2 linked regions of the Homo sapiens genome follow. The protein of the gene in region 1 purifies or fractionates together with the protein of each later gene. This does not show direct contact. Each region holds a gene or a part of one and is shown on either strand. Other genes may lie near its edges.

The links.
Region 2: the proteins of FAM53C (region 1) and FNTB purify together in Homo sapiens (affinity purification with mass spectrometry, with the first as the bait; 3 studies listed by BioGRID). This does not show direct contact.

What each region holds. Positions count from the first base shown.
Region 1 is NC_000005.10:138,338,677-138,348,265, reverse strand, and holds part of FAM53C (protein FAM53C), read right to left. Parts: intron 7,083-9,589; 5' UTR 7,050-7,082; coding exon of another isoform or gene 7,002-7,049; 5' UTR 6,931-7,001; coding exon 6,853-6,930; intron 6,458-6,852; coding exon 6,400-6,457; intron 3,442-6,399; coding exon 2,657-3,441; intron 1,565-2,656; coding exon 1,307-1,564; 3' UTR 1-1,306.
Region 2 is NC_000014.9:64,978,851-64,995,055, forward strand, and holds the start of FNTB (protein farnesyltransferase subunit beta), read left to right. Parts: upstream 1-8,044; 5' UTR 8,045-8,103; coding exon 8,104-8,247; exon of another isoform or gene 8,248-8,263; intron 8,264-16,205. UniProt on the Homo sapiens protein: Essential subunit of the farnesyltransferase complex. Catalyzes the transfer of a farnesyl moiety from farnesyl diphosphate to a cysteine at the fourth position from the C-terminus of several proteins having the C-terminal sequence Cys-aliphatic-aliphatic-X.

The sequences.
Region 1 (9,589 bases):
CCAAACTCCCAACTGCTTCTCACAGCCTTTGCTTTATACATCCTCAGCCAATCCCTCAGTGAGCCCCAACCTCCCTATGGTCTCTCAGGCCCAATTAGAGGCAAATAAACACTTCCTGGCAGGAGTGGAAGACAAGCAAACTATTAAATGCTAAACACCCCTTCTTCCCTCTCAAGCAGGTCAAAAAGGCTGGGCCTGGATCTTGTAAGAATTGGTTTCCTGCAGTCACCTTCCCAACAGCAGTGCTGGGGTGAGCTCACCCATGTCTGCTGGGGACTGAATGCCACTTCTGTTGCAGGTCTGCCTCAGTAGATGCTGGGGACCAATATAGGGCCTTCCTACCTAGTCTATGACTTAGAAGGGCAGAGGGTGAGGGGAAAAGGGTCCCATCAGCAGAGGAGAGAGAGAGAGAGCCCCTCAACCCTGCTTCAGTTGCCCATGTGCTGTGTGCAACTCTACTCAAGAGGGCAAAAGAGGCAGGTGGAATATAGCCTGGACAATCTGATGAGAAAAAAAGGCCAGCTCAGAAAAAATATGGTGACACCCCCCACCTGCATTCCCCAATATACTAGATCGAGCTAGTGGGGAGGGGGTGGGGCTGAAGAAAAGATCATTAGCTGAAGTCACAGCACTTAAAACACCCTGCTGTACCCCAAAATGAAATCCTTTGCAGAGTCGGTGATGCTATGGATTACAAGCCTGGTTCCAGAGCTATTTAGAAAAAAGGAAAACTTGGTGCCCTCCTCTTGACTCCTTGAGCAAACCCAACATCCTGTAAAAAACTCAAGATCCTGGGGGTATCATGATACTCTGCTGTTAAGGAGCAATTGCCTTCCTTCCCTAAGGCTACGCAAACACACCTTTCCACAAGTACACTCCCATGCACGCACACACTCTCACGCAGTTTCTCTGAGGAGGCTGACTCAACCCCCCACCCTGGCCAAATTCTAAGACACAAGTGCCCTTTGAAGCAAAGGGGCTAGTGAAATTCCCCGAGCTGGGGTCGGCAGACCCCTTCCTTCCCTGCCCATTGCTCTCTTGGTGGCAGGGATACTCACACTCAGGGCCGCCATAGGAAGGGTCTGCTCTGGGGCTGTCCCTCCCGCCACCAGCTCCGTTTATCTTGTCCCGGCCAGTCTCTTGGCATGGTCGAGCTTGCTGGAGCGAGAAGATTTCCAGCTGCCCTGAGTCGGAGCCCTCCACTCACCCCCATTCCCAGGCTCGGCCCCCAGCCTTGGGGACTCGACACTTGTTAGTAGCCATGAGAGAGTCAGTCTGTGTGGCCCCAGGAAGTAGCCTCTCAGTTTTAGTTTTCCTCAATCAAATTCAAGTCCAGGTCCCCAAAGTCCCGCTGGCACAGTGTCCGCTTGCTCAGCGCCTGCCGACCCCACCGCACAGCCCCCTCCTCCTCCTCTTCGCTTTCACTCAGCACCTGGGAGGAACCCCCAGTGGGGCTGCAGGAAGCAGAGAGGGGTGGGGGGCTACAGGCCATGAACCATGGTGGAGAGATGCTGCTGCCTTCCCGGGCTGTTTCTTGGAGACAAAGACCTCCTGAGTATGGTTTCTGTCAAACAAACAAAGAAGACAGTTACACCTGAAGGCAAGAATTCTTTAGGGTGAGGTTTGTAAACTTTTTTTTTTTGAGACGGAGTCTCACTCTGTCACCCTGGCTGGAGTGCAGTGGCGTGATCTTGGCTCACTGCAAGCTCTGCCTCCCGGGTTCACGCCATTCTCCTGCCTCAGCCTCCCCAGTAGCTGGGACTACAGGTGCCCGGCCCACGCCCGGCTAATTTTTTATATTTTTAGTAGAGACGAGGTTTCACCGTGTTAGCCAGGATGGTCTCAATCTCCTGACCTCATGATCCGCCTGCCTTGGCCTCCCAAAGTGCTGGGATTACAGGCGTTAGCCACCATGCCTGGCGTTTGTAAACTTTCTGACAAAATTTGGAGCCCATTGTTTCCATTGAATTGAAGAATAGAAGCTCCGTGAGGGCAGGAACATCATCTGCAGTGTTTCATTACTTTGTACTGCCAGTGCCTAGTCAGAGTCAGTAAATGTTTGCAGATGGGATGGACGACTGTATGAAAAAATTAATTAATTCTTAAAGAGGTTTGTAACCTAGTGGTCTAGAAAGAATAATATGAAAAAAGTGAGCAAAGTGCATACATACAATAATTGTACTCACACCAGGAAGTCAAAAAACATTTGTCTAACAGATGAATACACTGTAGCAGCCCATCTTGCTTCAGCCCTCACAGACCCACTTTGAAGCAGTGACAGGCAAGTGGCAAAAACAGCTTTGGGCACAAGGAGTAGGTACTGATGGAATTTTTTGCAGCTTGTGCATTCTTGGAAAGGAGGGAAAGTACCTCTTGCAGGACAATTTGGGATCTCTGTTGGAAGGTTTAACATGGGTCTCACCCCAGTTTCTCTAACTCCCAGGATTAAGGCATTTCACAGGATGGGGGGACTTTCAGTGCTAACACTGGGACAGTCCCAGGCAAACTGGGATGGTAGGTCACCCTAGCTAAGAGCTAAAGGAGGTGCTGTTGGTGGTGGGGGCGGCAGGGTAATGAAGCTAGGGGCTAGCTCAAAAGTGGAAACAGAACAGTCCCCACACTCCCATCTAAGCTCCCCTAGTCTTGCTGGTCCCACCTGATTCATCTTGTCAAAGTCCAACGAAGGCCGCAGACGCCGGGGGTCTTCCTCGTGGCGCCGCTTGACCCCAGTTTTGCGGGCATCCAGATCACAAGGCTGTGAGCGGCTTCGGGGAAGGTTGCGGAGACCTCGAGGTCGCCAGGGCAGCTCTGGGGAGGATGCGGGAGAGCTCCGGGCAGAGGGCAAGAAGCGGCTTGCCTGCGGGCCCAGACTGGGTGACAGGGAGAAGCGGCGCTGAGGTGGGCAAGGTGACAAGGACTCAGCATCACTCTCCCAGGAGCCACTTTGAGGGGAGGCGGCGCAGGGTCGAGAGGAATCTTGGGCCAGGGCCAGGCTGAAGAAAGGAGGGCTGTAGGGTCTGTGAGCTGGGGCACATTGAGAAGAGGCACTGGGAGCTTGGAGGAACCTGAGGCTGGAGACCCGCTTTGGGGGGCTCTGGTGAGGCACCTGCGGCCCACCCCCTCCACCACTGCCCCGGTGCTTTATGGGAGTCCACAGCTTGGAGGGGGCGGGCCGCCACACCGGCTGCCAGCGAGACAGGTCCACGGGCACTGAGAGTGAGCGGCAGTGCCTCTTGGATGGAGGGGCAGGGGGCACAGGAAGCTTCTCTGGATCTGGGGGCTCAGGTCTTAGGACTTGGGAGAAGGGCTGCTCCTTGGGGGAGTTTCCCCGACTGGGTGGTCTGAGGTGCAGGCTCAGGCCTGAGGGATGGTAGCTGAAGTTGAGGCTGTCCTGGAACTCAGCACAGGAACAGTGGGGCAGGCCCCTCCAGGAAGCACCTTCTGGAAGGCATTTATAATAAGAATAATATTAATGATAGCTTACATTTTTTAAGAACTTACCATTTGCCACATAATGTATGGAGCATTTTATGTGAAAATTTCCAAAAACCTTATGAGGTAGGTAGTATCGTTATCATTATCCCCATTTCACAGATAAGAGAAATTCAATAACTTTCCCAAAATCACATAGCACTCAAAAGACCAAAGGAGGATTCAAATCCAGGTCTGTCTGATGCGAAGGCTAGGTTTTTAAACCACTATGCTCTATTGCCTCCATTGTGACCAACTACCTGGAATCAAAAACATTTCATCTACTGCCTGCCACTCCCTCTCAAAGGTAAAAGAAGTCAAGAGAAACAAACACGTTTGTGAGTGTCCTGCTCATCTCTCCCTCGCCCCTCCCCCACGCTTGCCCTGGATGCTGAAAAGCAGGCCTATGCTCTTCTTTCTCGGCCTTTCCTCCTCTCATGTGTCAACAGCACCAAGTCAGGAGTTAGGACTGCCAAGAAGTAAGAGGTAATCAGGCAGGTAAGAGATCACTTTTATTCCTAGGGAGGGCAAACAGGGTGGGGAAGGCCTTTGACAGTGAAACCTGGGCTTGGGAAACCCTGACTTTGTGCTGCTCATCTTCGTTTCTGTCTGGCCACCCACATATTCCGATTCCCTTCCCCTAGGCCTTCTCTTAAATCCAAACAGATGGAGGGACCAAGAGAAGGAAGGGAAAATGGACTAAAAGAAACAATCCTCACTCACTGTATTCCAACCAAAATTGTGACTTTTGGGAGACGGCTCATTAAGGGACAAAGGGCCTAATCCAAACTCCTCTGGCTAGCTGGCTGGAATTCTGCAGGGGCTGGATATTTGGGGCAAACGACAAGTATACGAAGTCAGACTTGATGGTGGCAAAATTCATACTGAGTGTATTTGGTCTATAGTTCTTCCCTCTACTAACCACTATGAGGGCAGGGACCATGAGTTCCTGCTCTATACTTATGACACAATACCTGGCTTTCAGCAAGTCTTTAATAAACAGGAGGAAGAGACTGAATGAACATGTTTTTGCCAACTCACTTCCCTTGCTAGGTATCCCAGAAAAGAAAATGAGATGCAGAACTGCTGAGCAGCACGAGTTAGGGAGTTCTGATTGTCCACCAGTGATGCCTCCATCTAAATGTCCCTACGATCAGGGGCCCTTTAACTCAGTAATTAATAATCTACGAATTTATACCTCAGATATATTTTCACATGTGAAAAAATGACATATGTACAAGGTTATTCACTACAGTTTCTTTTTTCTTTCTTTTTTTTTTTTTTGAGATGGAATCTCGCTCTGTTGCCCAAGCTGGAGTGCAGTGGGTGCGATCTCGGCTCACTGCAACCTCCGCCTCCTGGATTCCAGGGATTCTCCTGCCTCAGCCTCCTGAGTAGCTGGGATTACAGGCGCCTGCCACCATGCCCAGCTAATTTTTGTATTTTTAATAGAGACGGGGTTTCACCATGCTGGCCAGGCTGGTCTCGAACTCCTGGCTTCATGCTATCTGCCCACCTCGGCCTCCCAAAGTGCTGGGATTACAGGCATGAGTCACCACGTCTGGCCCACTACAGTTTTATGTATCCAAACAAGATTAGAAATAACCTAAATGCACATCAATAGAAAACTCATTAAATAAGCCACTGTACATCTATGCAGTGTAATAATATGTAGCTATATATAACAAGGGAATGAATACTCAGCATTCTGATAGGGAAAGATCTCCTAGCTATATTAAAGTTTTTTTTGTTTTTTGTTTTTTTTTTTTTTGAGATGGAGTCTTGCTTTGTTGTGCAGGCTGGAGTGCAGTGGCATGATCTGGGCTCACCACAACCTCCACCTCCTGGGTTCAAGTGATTCTCCTGCCTTGCCCTCCCGAGTAGCTGGGATTACAGGTGTGTACCACCATGCCAGGCTAATTTTTGTATTTTTAGTAGAGACAGGGTTTCACTGTGTTGGCCAGGCTGGTCTCGAACTCCTGACCTCATGATCCGCCCACCTCGGCCTCCCAAAGTGCTAGGATTACAGGCATGAGCCACTGTGCCCAGCAATTTTTTTTTTTTTTTGAGACAGAGTTTTGCTCTTGTTGCCCAGGCTAGAGTGCAATGGCGCAATCTTGGCTCACCGCAACCTCTACCTCCTGGGTTCAAGTGATTCTCCTGCCTCAGCCTCCCGAGTAGCTGGGATTACAGGCATGCGCCACGACGCCTGGCTAATTTTATATTTTTAGTAGAGATGGGGTTTCTCCATGTTGGTCAGGCTGGTCTTGAACTCCCGACCTCAGGTGATCTGCCCACCTTGGCCTCCCAAAGTGCTGGGATTATAGGTGTGACCCACTAGGCCCGGTCCCATTTTTTTTTTTAAAGGTACAAAATAATATATAGTATGCAACCTTTTGTGTTAAAAACGTGGAAATAAAATAGATGCAGCTAACCACCATGGCACATGTACACCTATGTAACGAACCTGCACGTTCTGCACATGTATCCGAGAACTTAAAAAAGAAAGGAAATAAATATATACATTTGCTTCTTTTTATATAAAGAAATTCTAGTCACATATACTGTATAAGAAACTAATACTTTTAGGGAGGTGGTAGAAGCTGGGTAGATAGGGAACGGGAGAGTAAGAGAGACTTTTCTCAGCATAACCTTTTTGTTGTTATTTTTTAAATTTTGAACCATGTGAATGTATTACCTATTCAAAAAATTAGATTATACAAGTCCCCACAAAGCTAGAATAAGAGCAAACCAACCAGATAACTTTCATGCTAGAACATGAAAGACAACTGTCAATCTCAGAAGTTGACCCTGGCAAGAAGGTTCTAGAGGTAGGCTCGCTAGCCCTGGTCACTGGAAACCAATGATAGAAATGTGTGGAGAGAGGAATGGGTACACACACGTACACAAACACACACGATGCCTTACCAGACACAAGCTGGAAAGAGTTCCCACAGTTGGAGATGTCTGCATGATCAGGCAAAGGCTAAGAAAGAGAGAATATCCATCATGATTTGGATTCAGGACACACTGACAGATTTCTAGGAAGCCCTCTTCAGTTCTCCTCTGCGATTCATGAGCTACAGGGATGTTAGGGACATTAAGTGTTCTTCCTCTTGTCTTCCCAAAGTTAGTAAGTCAAACAATCCACATCTTCCAACATCTCAAACCCTTCTCCACCCAAGTTTTGCTGTCCCTTCTCTATCGGTGGAAAAATCCCTGCCCCCTTCCTTTTGGGCTGGGTTTTGAGCCATTAGTGGGCTCTTCCAGGTTAAGTACCATGATTCATACAGCACAGGACAAGAGTAAAGTAATAGCAACAATCAGCCTCAGAAAAAAGGGGGAGGGGGTCGTGGAGAAGCAGGAAGACTGGTCTTTTACCAGACTGATGCTGAAGCGTGTGCATTTCAGCTCATCCAGAGTCTGCTTCTGTAGCTGCTCAGTGATCAGGGTTATCATGATTCTCCCCAGGATTTGACTTGCACACTTTGGAGCAAATGATGGATGTCTTCCCTGTTGTTCTTCCAGACCTCACTTGTGAGCCGTCTTCTGCCACTGCAGCACCATTCTAGCACCATTGGGACTTCCCTCTCCAGTCATGCCTGCTGAGTCTGCCAATTAGAGGGACCAGCCCCAAGTGATATTAGAGATGCACCTGGTCCAGAGATGGAAAATGCATGGCACACATACCACAGCACCCCTAAGCCAGGCCTCTGGCAGACATCAATTGATCACAGCTCTTTCCAGCTAAGCCTAAACACAGCTTCAGAAATTATGAACTTGGCAGTCCAGATATGAAATAAAATAGAGTTGGCAATCAAGTTGAAACTTATTTGCTACCCTTAAACTGGTTCATGCTCTGTTGTTTCTAACTGGAATACCAGCACCACTTAGAAAACAGCTGCTCAAGTGAGAGAGAGGGATGCCCAAATGATTATTTCCATCAAGATCAGCCCAGTATTTTATCTTCCAGTCAGAAGTGAAAAGAGGTACCCTTCTCCTAAACTACAGAAATAGTAATAAGAGAACAAGGAAGAACAGTGGTTGTAGGCAAGACTTTCTGCTTTAGACCTGAGTACATAGGATTTTATGTCCTCCCACAGCCTAAACATCTGATATATTATTGTTTTCCAATAGATACAGTGTTTGTTTTCTTATCAAATGGGAAGATAAAGAAATGGTCAGGGTAATTCCAATACATTTCAACTCTACAGACGTCGTAAACAACAACTCCATGACTGTTCAACTAAGTTTTTAGCCTCATCTGATGCAAAGTCCATGGATACAGTTAACCAAGATTCTTTCTCGTGGTCAACTTCTGATAGAAGCAAACTAACTGTATCAGATAACAGGCTTCAAGCCCACACAATTACCTGAGGGGCCTTGCTCAAGGGAAAAGGGGAGGTTAAGCCAGTGTCTTGATTTTGTTCTATCTATTCCCGGAAATGAGCAGCAAGCTGACAGCTTACCAGAGAATGTGTGTAGCATTAGCTAGTCAAGAGAACAAATCATCAAGAAATCTAATTATTAATCCAATTTGCTAAGAGTTTTGACAAATCATTTAATACTCCTTGGCCTCAGTTTACCCATATGTAAAGTGGGCAGAATAATCTTAACCTGTCACAGGAACAATATAACATATTAAAATGTACAAAATGTACCATCTGACCTATAAAAATCAGGAGTCCACACAGACTACCATTTCTCGTTCCCGTTTGTGAATCTTCAAGGCCTCAGAATGTCAGAAGTAATGAAATCAATAAGATGAAGAAGGCAATAGGGTCCATCTCTCTGGCTGAATACCATCCTCCCTCACCTGCACACTAAGAAAAGCCCAAGAGGGCTCTTCCTTCTGTGACCTTGGGGGCAGATCACTCTACAAAAAAGAGGAATTATCTCTACCCCACTCACACCTTAGAAGGAGGGCACAAGGAAGAGCAAAGAGATAAACCTGGATGTACCTGGAGTTCTCTGGAAGAAAGGTGCAAGAGAAGTCAATCATCATTACAGTTAACTATCATTTTCATGCATAATTATTACCACCCTGAACAAAATTCTAGCTTCCGGGGAGCTCTCTTCAGCTGCTTCCCCTATATTCTTACGGGAGAAGCTAAAGCTTATATCACTTCTGCTCTTGGTTTCTTAACTCTGCTGCCCTCAAAGATCAACCAGAGAGGGAACCTAAGTGCAGGATTTTACCCTAGAGACCCCAGGCCTCAGGCTAACCAGCTATGAGGAGCAGGGAATGAAGCAAACTCTCCAGCTTTTCATGAGGCATTTGGACAAACAGCAAACTCCCAGCCACCTCTAGGATCAAGTCAAGACAGTGAATTTGTGTTTTTCTGCATTTTAATTGTTGGGATGTGGCCACACACAGTGGTAATTGGAACAATGCAACTACCACCACGCAACTGATACTCTCAGCCTGAGTTTCCTAAAACAGGCCAGGCTGCGAGGGGGAACAGAACGGAAGCCATAAGGAATCAAACCAGGACACAAAAGAAGGCAAACCAGCTCCGCGAGGGGCCTCCTCTTTCTCAAGCAGGCATTGAAAAAAGTGTAAGAAGCCCTCTCTTGCCGCCTTCCTTCCCCTTCCATTTTGTGTATCTGAAGGGTAGAGACAGCCCTGAATATTCACTAAACAAGTTAAAACTTCTCAGTTTAACAACTGGCACGGGGCTCAGCCCTTCACAGAGCAGCAGGCCGCTAGGCCCTCTCAGCAACCCCACCAGACCTAACTCTCAGTCCAGGCTTTCCCTCCACCAGCAGCCCCCAAAAATAAAGATCAGACCCCCACCCCATCTCCTATTGGATGGCAGTAACCCCTGACACTCCTGTTTCAGGGATGCTGAGGTTGTGCTGTACCAAGACAAGGTAGGATCAGGTCAGGCCAACAGGGAGGAGAGTCACAAACCCTTTGGGGACCTTCCCCTCAGGTCCCAGCCCCACACCTCCTGGGGAGACTGAAGAAAAACATGAGGAAGGCAGGGAGCTGCATGAACAGGTAGGTGGAGATCTGCCTGCTCTTCTTCCATATGGTTCTGGTGGGGAAAGGGGTGACAAGTGGGGAACACCCCTCCCCCCACCCCCATGAAGAAGCAAAAGGCTAGGCCCCTCC
Region 2 (16,205 bases), on another chromosome or scaffold:
CAAAGGTCTTTGCATCATAGACAATGTAAAGGATTAAGTGCTGTGCTTTTAGATATGCATACACATAAATATCTCAATGCTTTACAAAGCAGTATTGCTGCCCGCAGGTCCCACCTCCAGCCCTAAGGCGGTTTTTCCCTATCTCAGTAGATGGAGCATACAATCGGGTTTTATACCGAGACATTCCATTGCCCAGGGACAGGCAGGAGACAGATGCCTTCCTCTTGTCTCAACTGCAAGAGGCATTCCTTCCTCTTTTACTAATCCTCCTCAGCACAGACCCTTTACGGGTGTCGGGCTGGGGGACGGTCAGGTCTTTCCCTTCCCACGAGGCCATATTTCAGACTATCACATGGGGAGAAACCTTGGACAATACCTGGCTTTCCTATGCAGAGGTCCCTGCGGCCTTCCGCAGTGTTTGTGTCCCTGGGTACTTGAGATTAGGGAGTGGTGATGACTCTTAAGGAGCATGCTGCCTTCAAGCATCTGTTTAACAAAGCACATCTTGCACCACCCTTAATCCATTTAACTCTGAGTTGACACAGCACATGTTTCAGAGAGCACGGGGTTGGGGGTAAGGTTATAGATTAACAGAATCTCAAGGCAGAAGAATTTTTCTTAGTACATAACAAAATGGAGTCTCCTATGTCTACTTATTTCTACACAGACACAGTAACAATCTGATCTCTCTTGCTTTTCCGCACAATGGAGGGCTACCCCAGGCATTGACTTTCACCTGGCAGAGAGGGGAAGCGAGCAAATAGAGGATCGCATGAAAGGTTTTAAAGGGTCAGGTCTAGGTGTAGTGGATATCACATCTTCCACTTTTTATTGGCCAGCACCCACTCACAAGCCTCTGCCTAAATGCAAAGGAGACTGCTGAGCAGCCACTTCCCAGCTGCAACTCTCCCTGTGGAAGGGGAGCCAGTCTCTGGTGGACAGCTCATGTTTCTACCACATACAAAGAAGCTTCAAAGTGGCTCCAACCCTAGCTGTGAGTCAGCATCACTTGTGGAGCTTTGACAAAATGCATGTGCCTGGGCCCCAGCCCCACAGATTCTGATTTAGTTGGTTGGGCTGGTGCCTGGGAGAATCTGGATTTTCGAAGGCTCCACCAATGATCCCAGTGCACAGCCAGGCTTGAGAGTCACTGGTATGCCTTACAGTGTACACCTCTGGCATTGCCTCTCAACAGTTTAAAAAAAACTTTTTTTTTTTTTTAGACAGACTCTTGCTCTGTCACCAGGCTGGAGTGCAGTGGTGTGATTTTGGCTCACTGCAACCTCCACCTCCCAGGTGCAAGTGATTCTCCTGCCTCAGCCTCCGGAGTAGCTGGGACTACAGGAGCACACCAACATGCCCAGCTAATTTTTGTATTTTTAGTAGAGACAGGGTTTCACCATGTTAGCCAGGATAGTCTCGATCTCTTGACCTCGTGATCCACCCGCCTCGGCCTCCCAAAGTGCTGGGATTACAGGCATGCGCCACCACACCCAGCCAAATAAAAAATCATTTCTTAGAGTTTTCAAGGTGAACAATGTTGTTTAGTTGGCTTCCATTTTGTATCTGCTGGTAAAATATTCACCATGATAAACCCAAAACAGGACTGTGAGTCAATACTTTTGCACAGGTTTTCAGTAATAGAGTATATGTAATGATTAATAATATATAATGTAATTTATTTCATATCAACATACAACACAATAAAATAATGCAGCCATGTAGTATTGATGATTTATTGATTTCTGAGAAGCTCACAGCTGTTCTTTGTGCCATGAAATCATTGTACTGCATTTAGAAAGCTATTCTTTTGTTTTTTATGATTGGAAACATTTTATATTCCATTTTGTGTAATACAGAACATTTTAAAATACATTTCACAATTTCTAAATTTCGATATAATTATTAAAAAATGATTACTTCAGACTAGTCTCTTACAAATGTTACTAAACACAAATATTATACATAAAAGGCCATCTTCATTAAATAGATTAGAATGAATTACTCCTTCAGCTACATTCCCACTGTAAGAGAATACATTCTTGGGGAATATATTCTGTGTATATGTATTATGTCTTATTTTATGTTTTTATCATTTATATATATTTTTCATTTTTAATCTTTTCTACTTAATAGATTTATTTATATTTATACTTTTATTTTATACTCATTTTTATTTACATGGTCTCTGTAGTTATTAGATAGTGAGCTCTTGAAAGATAAGGCTAGTATTATGTTCATTGTCATTATCATCTACAATTATGTTACACAAACAAGCACTCAAATGTTCATTACAATGACTGGAAATCATTTGAACCATTTAACTTATTCAGTGTCTATTATGTCAGGGAGTACAGCAATGAATAAAACAGACCAAAAAAAAAAAAAAAATCCCTGCCCCATAAAGCTTACATTTTGGTGGAGAAAGACAGATAGTAAACAAATCAATACACAAAATATAAAGTCTCTGATCTAGTGATGAGAAAAATAAAGCAGGGGAGTGAGATTAAGCTATTACCAAAGGGGGTGGCACTCCCATTTTACATGGGGAGGAAGGAAAGATCTCAAGAAAAGGGAAATTGGGGTTAGATTAAAGAATTTGGGCCAGGCATGGTGGCTCATGCCTGTAATCCCAGCACTTTGGGAGGCTGATGTGGGAGGACTGCTTGATTCTAGCAGTTCGAGACCAGCGCGGGGAACACAGGAAGACCTCATCACTATAAAAATTTTTAGAAAAAATAAATTATAAAAAAAAGAAAAAGAAAAAAAGAATTTGAGTAAAAACTATAAGAAGGGAGGGCAATCCGTGTCTATGTCTGGGGCGGAGCTCTGCAGGGAGAGGCAACACAAGCATCAGTGCTCTGAGGCTGCAGCAGGAGAGGTGTACACAGAACAGCAGGGAGGCCAGTGTCAAGGCAGTGAGCAAGCTGGAGAGTGCAAGGGAAGGGGCCAGAGAGGTGAATGGGGTTCTCTAGGCCACCTTGACTTTGAGATGAGAAGAGAGCTTTGAGTGAAGGGGTGGCTTTGCTTACATTTTTAAAAGTTCAGTCTGGCTTTTTCATTTTGTCTTGGATCTTTGAGGCTGCTAGAACAGAATCCCATACACTGGGTACCTTGTCAACAACAGAAATAAAGTCCAACATCAAGGCACCTGCAGATTCGGTGTCTGGTGAGGGCCTGCTTCCTGGCTCATAGGTGATGCCTTCTCTATGTGTCCTTATATGGCAGAAGGAGTGAGGGAGCTCTGTGGGGTCTCTTTTATAAGGACATGAATCCCATTTATGGCAGCTCGGCCCTCATGACCCAAACACCTACCAAAGGCTCCACCTTCAAACACCTTCATATTGGGGATTAGGTTTCAACATATGACTACTGGGGGCACCTAAACATTCAGTCTATAGCAAGTTTGTATTAGGGTACAGGGGGACAAGAGTGAAAAGAGGGAGAACAGTTAAGAGATTAGTGTAAGAATCCAAGTAACAGATGATGGTGGCTTGGACCAGGACACTGGCAGTGGGATTGGTAAGCAGTGATCAGATGCTAGATATATTTAGAACAGAACTTACAAGGAGTGAGAAAAAGAGAGGCAGCAAGAATGATTCCAAGGTATTTGGAGTAACTGGAAGGATGGAGTTATCATAATAGAGATCGGGGAGACTGAGTGCACAAGTTTGGAAGGGAAGACCAGCAGCTCTGTTGTGGATATGTTAAGTTTGAGATGCCTATTGGAGATCTAAGTGGAAATGCAAATAGACATTAGACATGAACTCTGGAGTTCAGGAGAGATCCAGGTTGGAGATACAAATTAGGGAGTTTTCAACCTATAAGTGTTATTTAAAACATTGAGACTGCCTGAGCTGACAGGGAAGTTAGTGCAGACAGATAAGAAGTCTGAGGACTGAATCCTGGGGTACCCCAAGCTAAGGTATCCAAGATATTAGAAAGGCAAGGAAGGAGGAAAACCAGTGTGAGGCACCACAAGGACAATGTGTTTCAAGAAGGGAAATGATCAACTGTGCAAATATTGCTGGGAAGTCAAGAAGGAAGACTTGAGATCAGGACTGAGACCTGGCCCTTGGATTTGGCGATATGGAATTTAATGGAGAGTTGATAAGAAACGATTGGAAAACCTGATTAGAATGGGCTTGAGAGAGTTGGAAGAGAGGACCTGGAGACGTTAGTAGTAGCAAATCTTTCAAGGGTCTCCGCCAATGAGTCATCGGGAGGTAGCTGGAGAAGGAGTGGAATCAAGAGGGTTAGAGATGCACCCCCCCCCACCCCCTCATAGCCAGGCGCGGTGGCTCATGCCTGTAATCCCAGGACTTTGGGAGGCCGAGGCGGGCGGATCACGAGGTCAGGAGATCGAGACCATCCTGGCTAACACGGTGAAACACCGTCTCTACTAAAAAAAAAAAAAAAAAAAAAAAAATTAGCCGGGCGTGGTGGCGGGCGCCTGTAGTCCCAGCTACTTGGGAGGCTGAGGCAGGAGAATGGCGTGAAACCGGGAGGTGGAGGTTGCAGTGAGCCGAGATCGCGCCACTGCACTCCAGCCTGGGCGACAGAGCGAGACTCTGTCTCAAAAAAAAAAAAAAAAAAAAAGCCCCTCACCCTCCACGCTGCCAAGAATGAGAAAATGGCATGCTTGAGGGAGATCTGGATGATCAAGTAGAGGAAAAATTTGGTGTTTTAGGAAAGGAAAGGGAGAATTGCGACAGTCTTTGGGGGGTGGCGCGTGAGGGGAGGGAGATGACCTGGTCCTAGGTAGGAGATGGGGCAGTCATTCCATCTAGGGGAATAGGAGGGACAGGACCGCCGAGTAGGAGGGCACAGATGATGGTGGGCAGTAAACTTGGGGAGGAAGTTAATTACCTAGCGGGATAATAGATGAGTTCTTTCCATTTTCCAAATGTTCCAATATGTATTACTACACAGTTTCACAAGATATTAAAGGAAACAATTCATTCCGACATACGGCTTGTATGAGTGAAAACAGGGAGAACGGTGAGAGCAGTTTTAAAACTTACTCCCTAAACGCACTCCAGGGTCGGAAGCGACCTCTAGGGGTTCATTTAGACCATTACTTTTTTCTTTTTCTTGCTCTTAAAAGTATAAAACAGCACGGTCCACATTTAATATTATTTTTAAAGAAACACGATCAGTTTAATTTAGAAAAGAGTATCAGGCATGTGAGTAAAATAAACATAAACCATCTGCAGTCCAAGCTGGAGTTGCTATTATCATGACTAAGAGTTTTCTCTCTAAATATATCATTCTCTATAGCACCATTAATATTTATGTTCATTCTGCTTCTTGAATGAGTGGTTTTATTAAACCAAGAGGAGGGACAACTAGTGGGCTATTTGATCCAGGTCTTCTTGATGCTTACATGGAGTACAAACCCCACATATTTTTCATTGCTGGTTTCACTTGATTTGGTGTTGTCACTGGGTTTCCTCTGCCTGGGATGTTCTCATCCCCTGGATTAATTAACTCACTTCCTCATGGGAGTCTTTCCAGACCTTCCAGGCTACCTTAGGGTCCCCCCATCATGCAAGCTCACACACTCCATGCTTCTTTCTGCCTCATCCCATTTCTCCCAACTGTCATGAAAGAGTCAATTCTGTCATTACTGTTTAATGTTTTTTCTGGTAAGTCATGAGACCCATAATGGCAGAGACTGTGTCTGGCTTGTTCACTGCTGTCTCCTTAGCACTTAGCTCAGTGCCCAGCACTTACCCTGTACTCAATAAACATTAATTGAATGAGAACACACTATCCTGCCGGAGACTCTTGCCCATGTTCCTATTCACATCTTTTGGATCCCACTGCAGAGGAGACTGAATTTCAGAGATGAATTTTTATTTCTAAAATACAGTTTGCAATTGCTTTAGGTGCATCTGTGACAGATGCAACAATTTGTCACAAAACTGTCCCAGCTATTCTTTCAATAGCACAGTCTTCAGGATTGAAGCGTTAAGTTTCCAGCTCTCCTGCAAAGAAACTCTTTGTGACAAAGGCTGAATCCTTAGATATAACCCTGACCTTATCAGACCATTTATTTCCCAAAATATAACTAAGGGAAAGACAGTAAGATGCCAATACAGGGGGCAGTATAATGAGACCATTTCACATTGTGCAGCCTTATCCATGGGTCCTAACCCATACTGTCCCCTTATTTCCAGATTTGGTAATATTCTGGTGCCTCTAGGTCTTAGTTCAGCAACAGTACCACTAAAATGGACATGGTGGTAGTATTTATCCACCTGAGGTCTTTAGGCCAGCCCAGCCTCATCTTTGAAATTTTTGTGAGTGCTTCTATTTACTACCAGAGACTGAGAACAGGGGAATGGCTGGTTGTCAAATGTCACTCTGGTCTATAATCCCTGGATCCTAGACATGTGACATGGAATGGAGTGGGAACAGAGTGAAGTGCTCTGAGCAGGAAGTAAAGCTTGTCTCCAAGTGTACCCGGAATGTCTGTTATCATACCTTCTATAATCTCCTACATACAACTCCCCCAGTTTAATCTCTTGGTATTATAATTTTTGGTGTAGTACTTTTGATGCATGCCCTAAAATAAATTCTCTTCTATTGCTTGTCCAAAGGTAGCAGCGTTTTCCTAAAAATCACAACTTTAAACTTGGTTGTTCTGGAGGCAAGTGTGATGAGTAAGTCCACTCCATAAGAATCAATAAGAATTTCTTTTATTCTAGCTGGGCGTGGTGGTGAGCATCTGTAGTTCCAGATACTCAGGAGGCTGAGGCAGGAGGGTCACTTGAGCCTATGGTTTTTGTTTGTTTTTTTGTTTTGCTTTTTTTTTTTTTTTGAAACAGGGTCTCGCTCTGCCACCCAGGCTGGAGTGCAGTGGCACAATCATAGCTCACTGCAGCCTCGACTTCTTGGGCTCAAGAGATCCTCCCACCTTAGCCTGTCGAGCAGCTGGGACTACAGGCATGCGCCACCACGCCCGGCTAATTTTTTTGATATTTAATAGAGATGAGGTCTTGCTATGTTGCCCAGGATGTTCTAACTCCTCAAGTGATCCTCCTGCCTCAGCCTCCCAAAGTGCTGGGGTTACAGGCGTGAGCCACCGTGCCCAGCACATGTCTTCTAAAAGCTGCTGTTTCTTCCTTTTTCAGGAGTTCTTTCCCATACTGTTCTTCTGGATGACTCCTCGTCATCCTTCGGATCTCAAATGAAAGGTCATTTAGAGAGGCTTGGCCTGACCATACAATTCAATTAGTTTCTTACCCCTTTAGTCTCTCTCATAGACCCTGTTATTTTCCTTCATCTCATTTATCACAAGTCTTCATATATTTATTGCGTTGGATACATTCAATTCTGTCGATTTTCTTAGAATGTAAGGTTTCCAAGGGAAGGGACTTCGTTTTGTTCACTTTTGTATTCCTAGAACCTAGCACAATGCCTGACACATAGCAGGTGTTCCATAAATATCTGCGGACTGACTGTCTATTTCACTTATCCTTGTTCCTTGTACTGCATTTCAGTTCTCGCTACTGCAGTGTAACCTCCAAGAGACAGGAGAAAATCATAATACCCCCCTCCCTCCATCACTGAGTGATACTGAGACGGCGTCCTTGCACGTTTGAGCAGCTGCTGCCTTCTCCTGGGAGGCTGTCAAGTACCCCAAGGTGCACAATAATTCTTTTAGTAATTGCCTGACTGAGGCAAATCAGTAGAGCTGTCAGAAATGCTTTCAAACTTAACATTCATTGGGTTCTTGGGCACCTGAAATTGCAAACAATTGCATTACAATTAAGTGAGAATTAGCAGAATGTTACAGTTCTTTAACAATTTGCGTAACAAACCGAGGCGTCCTACGCCATCTCGCTGAAATGAAATTCGGATGTAGACACCCTTGCGCTTCAGGACTCTACGCTCTTGCAGCAGCTCCTCTGCCCAATGGGGGGCGGCAGCATCTCAGTAACTCACTCGAAAGACGGGTAGGCGGGAGGAGACATTCGCGTTCAAAATCTTTTTGCCTCTATCCGCTCGCCGTAGCGCTTTAGCCCGCTCGAGTTTCAATGCGCGTTGTTGCTTAACGAAGCAGAGTCCTACACACTGTCTGCTGCTCTCCTGATCATGGCTTCTCCGAGTTCTTTCACCTACTATTGCCCTCCATCTTCCTCCCCCGTCTGGTCAGAGCCGCTGTACAGTCTGAGGCCCGAGCACGCGCGAGAGCGGTTGCAGGACGACTCGGTGGAAACAGTCACGTCCATAGAACAGGTGAGGTGGCAGGACTGGGCGAGGCGCCCGCGCGATGTGTTCTGGGAGCGCGAGTCCCGTTCGTAGGGCCGCCCGGGTGCGGAACTCACCGGGGAACTACGACTCCCACAGCGCACCGCGGTGCCTTTCCTCTGGGAAGCTCCGGGCGCCCAGGCTTGGGCTTCGTCGTGGAGCGTTTGCGCGGCCAGCTTGGGGAAGGGTCGTTTCAAGGTTGGGCTTGGAGGAGAGGGCAGTAGCCGAGTCCCCTCTGCCCTAAAGAACGAGAAGAATCGTGTTCTATGCCTGGAGGACAGAGGCAGCCCGTGCGGGTCGGACAGCCCACTCTGTTCTGCCAGTACTTCGGGAGGTTCTGGGGTGCATAGTGCACTTTTCCCAACCTGCCCTCAGCTTCTGGAGGCAGAGAGCAGGGCCAGGCTGCTGTCATGCCGTTTCACGATCTGTTTAATTTTTGACCTACAGTGCCAGGTTTGGGGGCCCGCCTCGTGGGTGGGCATTTTGGTAGTCATTCAGCCATTTGAGCACCAGCTACGTGTCGGACACAATATTAAACGATGGAAGTACAAGGAAATAAAACAGCTCCTGACCAGGAGCCTGGTTGGGGGACAGGCAGGAAAACAGTTTGGAAAGTGATCTAATAGAAAGAATGGATTTTGGACTACTAATCATTCCCTAAGGCCTAGAAGTAGGATCGAACCTATCATTTTGAAAAGTGTTTGGCGAATGAGTATATATTCATATGCCCAAAACCATAGTTTTGTTTTTCTTCTTATTCCCTAATTGGAATTGTTCCCAAGGTTGCTATGTGGAACTGTTTATCCATCTGTCCCTAGGAGAAGTGGTTAGGATAATTCTTAACACTAATAAATGAACATTCTGCTGCTTACTGAAATAAGATCTCTTAGTGAGATCAGTCTCCAGGCTTTACCTTGGAGAGACCTGTTTTGTATTTCCTACTTTAAGTTGGAAGCCTGTACTTTGGCAAAATTAGTAACAATAATTGTTTTATTGTACAGTTATGACTAAATAGAATTATAAATTTATAACAGAAACAAGGGCTTGATACGTGGTTATTCACAAAGTAGCAGAGAAAATATTTTAACTGGAGATTTAAACTTCATGGAATTTAGGGTAGCAAAGGAAATCCTCACCTCTCGAATCTAGCTAATTCTCCAGGTTGGTTTGCCTACCAGTGTGTCCCAGGGAAGGCTGACTGCAAAAGATTGTAAAGAAATTTCCCATTGATGAAAAACCTACAGGATCTTTGCAGAATTCCTAAATGATGGATTGCTGAGTTGATTCAGGTCAAGTGTTTTACTTATTATCTGACCTTAGACTATGGGATTGCCTTTTTTTTTTTTTTTTTTTTTGAGATGGGGTCTCGCCCTGTTGCCAGGCTGGGATGCACTGGCTTACTGCACCCTCCGCCTCCCGGGTTCACGCCATTCGCCTGCCTCAGCCTCCAGAGTAGCTGAGACTACAGGCGCCCACCACCACGCCTGGCTAATTTTTGTATTTTAGTAGAGACAGGTTTCACCATGTGGCCAGGCTGGTTTTGAACTCCTGACCTCCAGTGATCTGCCCTCCTCGGCCTCCTAGAGTGCTGGGATTACAGTCGTGAGCCACTGCTCCTGGTGCGAGTATCTTTCAAATCTAGACCCAACGGTATGGCAGACAGTAAAGAATCTTATATTTCTTTTTCATGTTGTTATTCCAGCACACATTATTAGAGTCTAGGATGAACAGTTTCAGGTAGTAGGATGATAATGTTGTATCTCATTTTTGTGGCCTTCCTCACTGTTTTAATAATCATGTTAGTGACCATTTATTGAGTCTCAGCACAGTGCTAAATGCTCTCCATATGTGGTATCATTCAATCCTTTCACTTTTTATGGATGAGAAGACTGAGGTTTAGAGACCTACCACATTGGTAGGTTAATGATACATTCATCAAAAGTAACAACCTTGTTAGGAGGAGTTGTTTACAGAGGATATACTAGTACTCTTTCAGTTTTAACTAAAGCTTCCATTTACTGATAGCTCAATTTTGTGCCATTGCCAGTAAAAACAAATTGATGGCTGACACCTGTAATCCCAGCACTTTGGGAGTTCGAGGCGGGAAGATCACCTGAGCCCAAGAGACCAACTTGGGCAACATAGCAAGACCCTGTCTCTACCAAAAAAAAAAAAAAAAAAAAAAGTAGCTGAGCGTGGTGGCATGCACCTGTAGTCCCAGCTACTTGGGAAGCTGAGGTGGGTGAATTGTTTTTGAGCTCAGAAGTTCACAGATGAGCCATGATCGAGCCACGGTACTCTAGCCTGGGCAACAGAGTAAAACCCTGTCTCTTAAAACAAAAAACGACTATACTGATTTTGGTACTGGCCTGGGCAACATAGCAAGACCCTGTGTCTATTTAAGATGAAAGCTTTTCAAATTAAAAAAAAAAACAAACAAAAAATAAATGCTTGTTACCTGCTTCCTATCTGATTATCAGAAGACTCGGTTTATTTGTTAAGCAATAATTTGGTAATAGGAGTTAAACCTATAAATAGTGGAAGGAGTCCTTAGCTGTGAGTCGTCTGTTCCATTCGTTGATTCTCATTCATTCAGCAAATACTTGAGCGCCTTCTACGTGCCAGGCACTGTTCTAGACACTCGGCATAAGTTGTTAAACAAAAGAGGCCAAGTTGATGCCTTTATGAAACTGTTTCTAGGCCAATGAGGCAGTCAATTAAAAGAGTTAATATCTATAGCTATCTCAATATAAAATGTTAATTAGAAACGCTGTGGAGAGTAACACCTTGGGATAGAGGGGATAGGGTGTGTCAGGAATGGGTGGGGTGGGAGCAGGGGAGGTCTTCATATAAGGTGTTAAGGGGAACCCTCTGGTGACAACACATGTGATCTGAGACCTGAAGTCTCAGATGAGGGAGGAAGCCATCATGGATCTGGTGCAAGAGTATTCTGGGCAGAGAAAGCAGCAAGCACAAAGGACCAAGGCAGCAGAATGCCAGGTGAGCAGGGGGCTTAGCAAACCAGAGAGTAGGAGATGGGTCGGATCATGTAGGGTCTCATTGGCCTTTGGAAGTACTTTAAAATACCCTGACTGAGATGGAGAGCCACTTGGCTGTATACCTGCCATTTACTGCCCCAGATTCACTTGGCCCTTTTCTAGCCTGCTCTGTAGATGTGCCCCAGGAGGGGGCCCTGCACTGACAGGTTGCCTTGCTTTATGGCTGCGGGCCATGGGAAGTATTGCTGGGGGTGACCGAGAAGGAGAAGAATGAGACCACTGTATTTCTTCCCTCCTGCAGGCTTGTGTGGGGTGGGGTTTCCTTAGACTTAAGGTCACATTTCCTGTCATGTGCCTTCTCTGCGGAGCTCTTTGTCTCCCTCCCTCTCCATCCTTCACACCTTCAGGTCTATGAGGAGTTCAGGTACCCCTGATTTACCAGCTCCAGATACTGCATTTTCTCTTGTGGTTTCCCTACACCTGCCCACATCTTTGTAAATAGTTCCTTTATAAACTCTCCTCAAATCACCCACTTTGTGCCATCTGTTTCCTGCCAGGACTTAGACTGATCCATGATCAGAGAGTTTTGAGCAGGGGAGTGACACAGTCTGACTAGCATTTTAACAGGCTCATTTAGGTTACTGTCAAGAGTAGATGGTGGGGAGTGAGGGTGGATACAGGGAAACCAGTTAGGAGGCTATTGCAGTATCCTGGGAGAGAGGTGACGGTGGCTTAGCTCACAGTGACGGTAGTGGAGGTAATGAGAAATGGTCAGCTCTGGATATTTTTATGAAGGTCTCTACCTTGCTAAGCTGTTTTGTTAATGCAGATGCAGGGAGGGCCTTTCATGACACTAGAGAACAAGACATGGTTGTATTGTTAGTGCCTGCCTTCCTTATTGTGCCATCTGGAATCATCCCATTGCAGACACTCTGATTCAGGCCAGTAGGTTAATACTGATAGTCTCAGAGGTAGCAGCCTTGCCAAAAACAGGTGTTTACAAAAGATACTACTGTTTTTCTTTGAGTTTGTCTTTGAACAGAGGCAAACGCGTCCTCCACTTTAAATGGCATGGTGTCATTGAACCATTGGCATGGTTCATTGTCAATGAAGTGACTTGAACTCTGAGGGGAATATAAGAGAATTATTAGTCTTGATCCCTGCCCTCAAAATTCTTTTATCTTAGAGAGATAAAAAAGAATATGCTGTAAGGCCGAGTGCGGTGGCTCACTCCTGTAATCCCAGCACTTTGGGAGGCTGAGGCTGGCGGATCACTGGAGGTCAGGAGTTTGAGACCAGCCTAGCCAACATGGTGAAACCTCATCTCTACTAAAAAAATACAAAAATTAGCTAGGCGTGGTGGTGTGCACCTGTAATACCAGCTACTCAGGACACTGAGGCAGGTGAATCTCTTTAACCTGGGAGGCGGAGGTTGCAGTGAGCCGAGATTGCACCATTGCACTCAAGCCTGGGTGACAGAGCAAGACTCCATCTCAAAAAAGAAAAAAATAAGAAGAATATGCTATAGGCAGTCACAGAGTGCTAAATTATAACTGCTTTGCACGAGGATTTTGGGGAGTTGAAAAGCCATCTGTGTGGGCTGAGGTGGTCAGGATGACTTCATGGAGAACGTGGAACTGGGTGGGCTGTAAAAAATAGAGTTTGGGGCAGCCATTCAAGGAGGGAGAGCTGTTTTGAGGGAAGACTCAGGCTTGACTGGGGGCGTTAAGATGGCTTACCAGGAACGGAGGGTGCAGGTTGGATGTGGTAGGAAATGAGGTGAGCTGGGCGGGTGGGCCCCTATCAGGGTATTAAGAGGCAGGTGATGTGCTGGCTTCAGGTTCGGGCAGTGGGCCACCACATATCCTAAGGAGGGACCAGCGGAACAGAATCCTGACCTGCTGTTGACTTATTTCAGCTTATAGGATCCAAAATATTAGTAAATGGAGGTGGAACAAATCACTAAATATGATAAAACTTCCCAACTTTTTATGCCTCTGATAGAAGGGACTGGAGCTCTGCTTGGTTAGGTGGTCAGTAGGCTAGCTTTCTGAATCCATTTTATTTTATTGAAATTCAGCATATACCATATTGCCCAAGTGTAAAGTAATCCTGCATATCAAAATTTCCCCATTAAAAAGTCCAAAAGGTTGTTTTTGGTCAAGTTGAAAATACATGTACTTTTAGGTATATAAGTGAAAAATACCTGCTTACAAAATTTACATTTAAATTTGGGTCCATATACCTACTTAAAATCACCTACTTTATAAAGTAACACTAATTTAGAAATGCTGGTTTTCCTCCTCTTCTTATTTATAAAATGTTTCTTTTCAGACTCTTCACATGCATCTTTGACTTCACTATTTTTATCATCACTGGAGCCACTTTTTGAGTCAGCCAATGTGGATTTCCGGACCACATGTTCAGTTCTTGAGATACATCGTTTTTGAATATGAATAAGGTGTTACCACTGAACAGTTTATTCCAAGTTACAAGTATCCACTTGCATAACATTAGACTTTTTTTTTAAGAAAGGGTCTCACTTTGTCGCCCAGGCTGGAGTGCGGTGATGCAATCACCACTCACTGTAGCCTTGACCTCACAGGCCTGCCTTGGCCTACCAAAGTGTTGGGATTACAGACGTGAGCCTAGAATTTTTTTTTTGCAGTGTTTCCAGTTGGTATATATTTGTGGTCACTGCAACTTAACCACTTTATTACTTTTTCAAATGATTTCTATTTTTTTTTAAAGACAGGGTCTCACTCTGTTTCCCAGGCTGGAGTGCAGTGGCATGATCATGGCTCACTGTAGCAACTTTCCAGGCTCAAGTGATCCTTCCACCTCAGCCTCTTGACTAGCTGGAACTACTGGCGTGCGCTACCATGTTCGGCTACTTTTTATATTTTTTTGTAGAGACAGGGTTTCCCTGTGTTGCCCAGGCTGGTCCCGAACTCGAGCTATCCGCCCACCTTGGACTCCCAAAGTACAGGCATGAGCCACCGCGCCCAGCTAAAATGATCTTTAAAACGTTGGTCTACTGGCCAGGCATGGTGACTGATGCCTGTAATCCTGGCACTTTGGAAGGCCAAGTGGGTGGATAGCTTGAGCCCACAAATTCGAGACAGCCTGGGCAACAGGGTGAGACTCCATCTCTAAAAAAAGTAAAAAATGAATAAACAAAATAAAAAGCTGGCCTTACAATGGCAGTTTACACATGGAAGTGTGAGTTTATATCTCCAGGGATAATTACTAAATTTGTGTTTAATTTATCTTGTTTCACTGATTACCATTAGCCAAAGCAGCCTTAACTGAGGTTGTTTTAGGGTATTGTGTCATCCCCAGCTGGTACTTTGTATTCAAAATAAGGAAATTGCAAAACTTCCTACAGCAAGAGGTACTTTGTAAGTATTTGAATATAAAGTGACTTGTATTTTCTGAGAGAGAATTTTTTTTGAAAAGTCTTGCCTTATATTTCATATATTAAATGACTCTTCTACTGCAGCTTCAATGACATGAATCTTAGGCAGCAAATCTACTTTCTGAAACATTCTGTCTCTGGGAGAGGAGGGAGATATAGGAAGCAGAGAAGTGATAGTGCCTGGTATGAAAGTTGGTGCCTCATGAGATTGGCTTTAGATAGAAGCTGTGAAAGAGAAAGTGCCAAATGCATTAGTTGTTGTTTACCACTTACTGAATGGAAACTATTCTCTGCTTTTATTGATTGGATTTCTTTTTTTTTTTCTTTTTTTATTTTTATTTTTTTTGAGACAGAGTTTCGCTCTTGTCGCCCAGGCTGGAGTGCAGTGGTGCGATCTCCACTCACCGTAACCTCCGCCTCCTGGGTTCAAGCGATTCTCCTGCCTCAGGCTCCCAAGTACCTGGGATTACAGGCATGTGCTACCACACCCGGCTAATTTTTGTATTTTAGTAGAGGTGGGGTTTTACCATGTTGACCAGGCTGGTCTCAAACTCCTGACCTCAAATGATCCACCCGCTTCCACCTCCCAAAGTGCTGGGATTACAGGCGTGAGGTACCATGCCTGGCCTAGTGATTGGATTTCTATTGATTAAATGAAAAACTCCATGAAATACCTTTTAAACAGAGCTGTCCAGAATGCAGGCATTTGGTTAGCTCTTCATTTATTTATTGCCATGGCACCTAAGTGTTGGGGACCCTAGTACAGTTACTTGATCCCTGGCCCCTAGAGTCTAACACAATCTCTCCATTACTGAACAATACAAACTAATATACATATAGTTATGTATCACTTAACAGTAGAAATACATTGTCAGTAGGAAATTTCCTTGTCATGTGAACATCATAGAGTGTACTTAACACAAATGTAGATGGCATAGCCTACTACACACCTAGGCTATATGGTATAGCTTGTTGCTCCTAGGCTACAGGCTACAAACCTACACAGTATGTTACTGTACTAAATACTGCAGGCAATTGGAACACAATGGTAAATATTTTTGTATCTAAACATATGTAAATATAGAAAAGGTAAAGTAAAAATATGTTATAAAAGATAAAAAATGATAGACCTATCTAGGGAACTTAGCATGAATGGAGCTTGTGGGCCTGGAAGTTGCTCTGGGTGAGTGAGTGAATGAGTGGTGAATGAATGTGAAGCCCTAGGATATGAGTGTACACTACTGTAGACTTTATAAACACTGTACACTTGTTACTGAGCAGACATTATGAAAAATAAAAATAAACACGGTATGCTTAAGCTACACTAAATTTATTCATACGCTTTTTTCTTTCAATAATAAATTAAACCTAGCTTACTGTAAATTATTTACTTCATGAACTTAAAAAATTTTTTTACAGCTTTTTGACCCTTTTGTAATAACAGTTTAAAACACAAGCACATTGTACTGCTGTACAAAAATATTTTCTGTATATTTTTATTCTGTAAGCTGTTTTCTACTTTAAATTTT